2 separate regions of the Homo sapiens genome follow, and region 2 is linked to region 1. The links come from fine-mapping of genetic effects on gene expression. A gene starts in region 1. The other region holds a variant in brackets. All regions are shown on one strand. Distances are between the middles of the regions. Region 1 holds the start of ELP6 (elongator acetyltransferase complex subunit 6). Region 2 overlaps KLHL18 (kelch like family member 18).

Region 1 (2,883 bases):
GGTACCCCGGAGTGTGAGGAGGGTGGAGAGAACAGGCCAGCCTGGGGTGCCCAAGACGGACTTGGTCCAAGCCAATTTGGCTCTGTCCTGCTTCTAACAGTTCTATTAGAGATCACAAGGAGGAAGAGTAAGAAGAACAGCAGCGTTCAATACAATGTGCCAATTGCTCCGGGGCGAGGTGGCGGTTAGGAAGCTCGCCCATGAAGACGGCGGCGAAACGAACTCCCCTCTCCTCTCGGGCCTATTCTGCAGTCTCCTCTGAGCGCCTGGGACCCCCCACCCCAGTGAACATGCACAGCGCGCCACAGTTCACGTCCGCGAATATAACCCAACCCCACTGTCGGCCATGCTTCCCAGGTACTTTTTTTTTTTTTTTTTGAGGTGGAGTCCCGCTCTGTCGCCCAGGCTGGAGTGCGGTGGCGAGATCTCGGGTCACTGCAACCTCCGCCTCCCGGGTTCAAGCAATTCTCCTGTCTCAGCCTCCCGAGTAGCTGAGATTACAGGCATGAGCCACCACGCCCGGCTAATTTTTGTATTTTTCGTAGAGACGGGGGTTTCACCATCTTGGCCAGACTTGTCTCGAACTCTTGACCTTAGATGATGCACCCGCCTCGGCCTCCCAAACTGCTGGGATTACAGGGGTGAGCCACCGCGCCCGGCCGCTTCCCAGGGACTTTTAAGGACACGCACAGCCGTTGAGAATATGCGAGATGGCCCAGAAGCCCACTTTCGGCGGGCCCAAGCCTCCAGTCCAATCCCCGGGTCGATCCTCTGCGGACTACAACTCCCAGGTACCCCGTGCCGGGTCGTCGCGCCATTCCCCGGGGTCGTGCGCACCGCCTCCCGGATGCAGTATTCCGCTGCCCTGCCAGGTCCCGCCCCCTTCCGGCCAGCGGGACCTCTTACCTGCTCCGCCCTGTCGGGGGTGGTGTTAAGCAGGTTATTAAGTTCCACGAACATTCCGAGCTCCTGGGACTAGCGCTCTGGAGGAGAACCCGGAGTGCTGCAGAGACGACGGAGGCTGGAGAGCAAAACACACCCGACAGCCCGGCTCGCGCAAGGAAGCGCGCATGCGCAATGCCACTTTTGCGAGCCAGCCACAGCCAATGAGGCGGGTGCCTCGATGGGACCGCTGCGCACGCGCGTAGACGTCCGTCGAGTCCCAGGTGGTAGGAAACGATGGGCTTCTCTGTGCGACTGCCAGCGGCCTCTGGCGGCTCATTCCGCGCAGATCTGCGTGGCGCCCGAGCCCTCCCAGTGGGCCCCCAAGGCTCCACGCGACCGAGTATTCTTCTTCCCTTGGCCTCGCTCTCTGCCCAGCCCCGGGCTCCTTTTCTCCACACGTGGCTGTCAAGCGCCTTCTGTATGCCCCACACTCCTGGGAGCTTGGGCTACATCGATGAACAAAAACAAAGGACAGGGAATTTATTATTATTATTATTATTATTATTATTATTATTATTATTTAATTGAGACGGAGTCTTGCCCTGTCGCCCAGGCTGGAGTGCAGTGGCGCGATCTCGGCTCACTACAGTCTCCGCCTCCTGGGTTCACGCCATTCTCCTGCCTCAGCCTCCCGAGTGTAGCTGGGACTACAGGCGCCCGCCACCACGCCCGGCTAATTTTTTGTATTTTTAGTAGAGACGGGGTTTCACCGTGTTAGCCAGGATGGTCTTGATCTCCCGACCTCGTGATCCGCCGGCCTCGGCCTCCCAAAGTGCTGGGATTACAGGCATGAGCCACCACGCCCGGCCGACACGGAATTATATCTTGAAAAGTTGTGTGGAGAAAAGCAAAGTGGGATTAGAGAGTACCAATGGGGGCAGGGGTAGGTTCCAGAATTAAAGAGGTTGTCAGGGTGGGTCTCACTAAGAAAGTGTGGTTGCGGCTGGGCGCGGTGGCTCACACCTGTAATGCCAGCACTTTGGGAGGCCTAGACGGAGGGATCACGAGGTCAGGAGTTCGAGACTAGCCTGGCCAATATAGTGAAACCCCCTTCTCTATTAAAAATACAAAAAATTAGCCTGGCGTGGTGGGGGGCGCCTGTCATCCCAGCCACTCGGGAGGCTGAGCCAGTAGAATCGCTTGAACCTGGGAGGCAGAGGTTGCAGTAAGCCGAGATCACGCCATTGCTCTCTAGCCTGGGCAGCAGTGTGAGACTTCGTTAAAAAACAGTGTGGTTGCAACACGCCCTGTATGCCTGTCCTCAGAGCCTTTATACTAACTCTTCCCTCTTCCTGGAATGCCCCTTTTCCCAGATATTAAGCTGATTTTAAAATTCCCCACTTCCTTCAGGTCTCTGCTCCGATGTCACTTTATTCGTGAGGCCTTCCCTGAGCACCTTACTTAAATCACAAACTGTCCCTTTCCCAACACTTCTTTTTCCTTGCTTTTATTTTTTTCCATAACATTTATATCTATTATACCGTATATAGTTTTGTTCTAGCCCAATCAGCCTCAGATCAGTGGACAAACCTGTAATTCCACCAAAGTCAAGTTTATTGACAGTCACTAAAATAATTGTTATATGATTTGGGAAAGAGTCGAATTCAGGTGAAATTTAAGTGAACCGGTGTTTGATATGCTCAAAGCACAGCACAGCTGTGTGTGGAGTCCTAATCTGGCGTGGACTGCAAAGGGGACCCAGGGTCATTTCTGTGGAAACTACAAGGTTAAGATCGATGTGGAATGTAATCGTTAGCTGAAGCTCTGCACCTGGGATGGAAATCAAGGCTGCTTCTCTGTGTCAAAGGGATGTAGATCCTTCAGCCAAGAATGAGATGTTTCATGCTTATTGAAATGTGAGAAAGAGAAAAAAAAATTGGCCTGACACTCACAGCTAGGTCTTGGTGTTCCTGTTGAGCATAAACAATTTCATAAAAC
Region 2 (2,913 bases), 190 kb before region 1:
CTGGAGGATGCTCTTCCAAGCTCACTCAGGTAGCTGTAGAAGTCTTCAGTCTTCTTCATATGGGCCTCTCTTAAGGATATGTTATTTAGCTTCTCTTAGAGCAAGTGATCCAGAAGAAGAGGGTAAGAGGAATTTCAGTGCCTTTTATGACCTAGCTTTGAATGTGACATACCATCGTCACTTCTGCTATATTCTGTTGGTCACATAGACCAACCCTGACATGTTGTGGGAGGGGACTGCACAAGGGTGTAAATACCAAGAGTGAGCATTTACTGGGAGCTATTTAGAGGTTGGGTACCACAGGGAATAACTCAAAGTGAAAAGTCAACAAGTAATATGTAAGCACATATTATTTAGAAAGATGGAGAAAAGTCCTAGAAGCAAGAGGTTGCCCCTGGGAGTAGGAATCGCGGGCAAGGAATCAAGAAAACAGAGACTGCTAGTTGTTGTTTTTTCTTTTGTAATAAACCTCATAGAACAACTCTAAGAAATTTGAGCAGAGGCTGGGTGCGGTGGCTCACGCCTGTTTAATCCAATGATTCGATCTTCCAACCTCAATCCTTGGATAAATATGACACAAAGAGATGACCATCAGATAGTGAGATTCCCTGGCTTTTCACTAATGTGGAACCTGATAAAAAGGAAAAAAGGACTGTTTTGCTCTTCCTGGAGAATAGAAAGTTCTTAAGTGGAAATGTTTATATAGCTTGGAGCTATAAATGGCTTATTGAAGGGAAGAGCCTTTTGGCAGATAGTTGGAAAACACTTTATAGAATTCCTCAGGCTAAGGGTGTGTCAGTGAGGATTTGACACTCATTGGAGGAAGAGTTGGCCTCTGTCCCTGCTAGCCATACAGAGCAGCAGCCAGTCCACAACACCAGTGTATCTCCTCATGCCCCTGCCTCCGGCCCAGTCACTACATATTTACTCTTCTTGAGGAGCATACTGTTAGGAGCACCAGCATTCTTGGACCATTTGTCTAGTCCATCTGCCTGAGGTTGGGATAAAGTGTTACAGGAATCAGGTATTTGAGTTGGTGGAGTAGCTGAAAGGGGTGCATTGGAGACTACCATATAAGTAAAAACGATTACATGAAACCATTCAGGCTTAAATTTTTTAGCTGTTTTAACGCTTCATTAAAATGTATTGTTTACATTCTTCTACTGTAACTGAGTATATTGCATTTAAAATACTTCAGGGTCATCATGCTAAGCCTTGGCCTCCATGCCCTGGGATGCCTTCACCGCCTTTGCAGTGGGCAGTGGGGTATGCTGTGGAGCCGGGCGGAGGGGCAGGGTGGGTTTTTTT[G/T]TTTGTTTGTTTTTGTTTTGCATTCCTCAATATCTGTCTTTGTATTTTACTTTGCCCACAGATTGGGGACCACAAATTCAGTGCCCACCGGATTGTCTTAGCAGCCTCGATCCCGTATTTCCATGCTATGTTTACAAATGACATGATGGAGTGCAAGCAGGATGAGATTGTAATGCAAGGAATGGACCCAAGGTACTGAATCCCACCATTAGGTTTCGCAGGCTGCTTTCCAAGTGCAGTTTCAGCCTGTGCACGGTTCCGTTGAGGACCTGCAGCAGGACACAGTGTCTAATAGCCTAGCTCTACACAAATAATAAGTGATTAATAAGCAGATTAGAACCTGGGCCAGTGGTCTGAGATAGGGTTAAAATGAAGGGAGTTTTGATGGGGCTGTTTTTACCTTACTATAAGAGAAATACATTTAATAGGACCTAGACTCCATGATTTTTTTTTTTTTTTTTGACTGGGGCTGGGTTTAAGAGTGGTGGTATATTATTCTCTGCACTTTTCTGGGCTAGTCATTTTAGCTGACAAAACAGTTCTTCAAATAAGTGTCTTCATTTACATCCCTTCTTATCAGTCTAGAACAGTGTTGTCCACTGGAGGTTTCTGCAGTGATGCAAATGTTCTTTCTATTTGTATTGCCCAAAATGGTAGCCACTAGACACAGATGGCTATTGAGCACTCGAAATACGACTAGTGGGACTGAAGAACTGAATTTTAAATTTTGTTTAATTTTAATCAATTTAATTTTAAAGTTAAATAGTCACATGTGGCTAATGGCTACTATATTAGACAACACAGGTTTAGAAGGTGGCAGATCTTATGGTTATTTCATGGTTCAGAAAATTGAAGCTCAAGGAGATCAAGCCCAAGGTTATCCCCTTAGCTGGTAGTCAGTTATTGCCCAACCTCTTAATCTGACAGTGGTGACAACTAGGGGGAAAAGAGCTAGGAGACTGTGTGTTACCCTCTAGATGATCAAAGTGCCCCAATACCGGAAGAGGATTTATATACCCATGGCAAGGTAGAAATCTCAGGTCAGGCCAGGCAAGGTGGCTCACACCTGAAATCCAAACAATTTGGGAGGTCAAGGCGGGAGGATTGCTTGAGGCTAGGAGTTCAAGACCAGCCTGGACAACATAAACCACATCTTTATAAAAAAAAATTGTTTTTAATTAGCTGGGCATGGTGGTGCACACCTGTAGTCTCAGCTACTTAGAAAGCTGAGGTAGGAGGTGAGCCGAGGAAGTCAAGGCTGCCGCGAGCTGTGATCACACCACTACACTCCAGCCTGGGCAACAGAGTGAGACCTTGACTCTTGAAAAAGAAAGAAAGAAATCTTAGGCCAGTTACTTATGAGGAAAGACGTAGAAGTAAGGTGTCCAAGGGCAGTTGTGCCCTCCTATTCTCTGAGGTGTGTGTCTGAAGGAGGCATGCTCGTCCCATGAATAGTCCAGGGGCTTCATTTAACAGAGATTGCCTGAACATCCATGATGAGCACAGCTCTATCAAATATCTGAGGTATAGCAGTGAGAAAACAGCACCTCTTCTCATTCTGCCAACCTTTTTTTTGGGGGGAGTGGAGGGGGAGGCAATGGAGTC

The links. PIP is the estimated chance that this variant, and not a neighbour inherited with it, causes the effect.
Region 2: its variant is the best candidate, but not a certain one, in a credible set for the expression of ELP6 in whole blood (TOPMed, PIP 0.51).

Annotation. Positions count from the first base shown.
Region 1 is chr3:47,512,631-47,515,513 of GRCh38, forward strand. It overlaps ELP6 (elongator acetyltransferase complex subunit 6), which reads right to left and starts at 1,082. Exons shown (of 7, transcript NM_001031703.3): 1 at 907-1,082. The coding sequence starts at 960. RefSeq lists enhancers at 497-606, 937-1,046.
Region 2 is chr3:47,318,284-47,321,196 of GRCh38, forward strand. It overlaps KLHL18 (kelch like family member 18), which reads left to right. Exons shown (of 10, transcript NM_025010.5): 2 at 1,370-1,500. Among named protein-coding and RNA genes, the nearest start is that of KLHL18, 37 kb to the left of the region's middle. The variant G/T (reference allele first, on the strand shown) is at 1,309.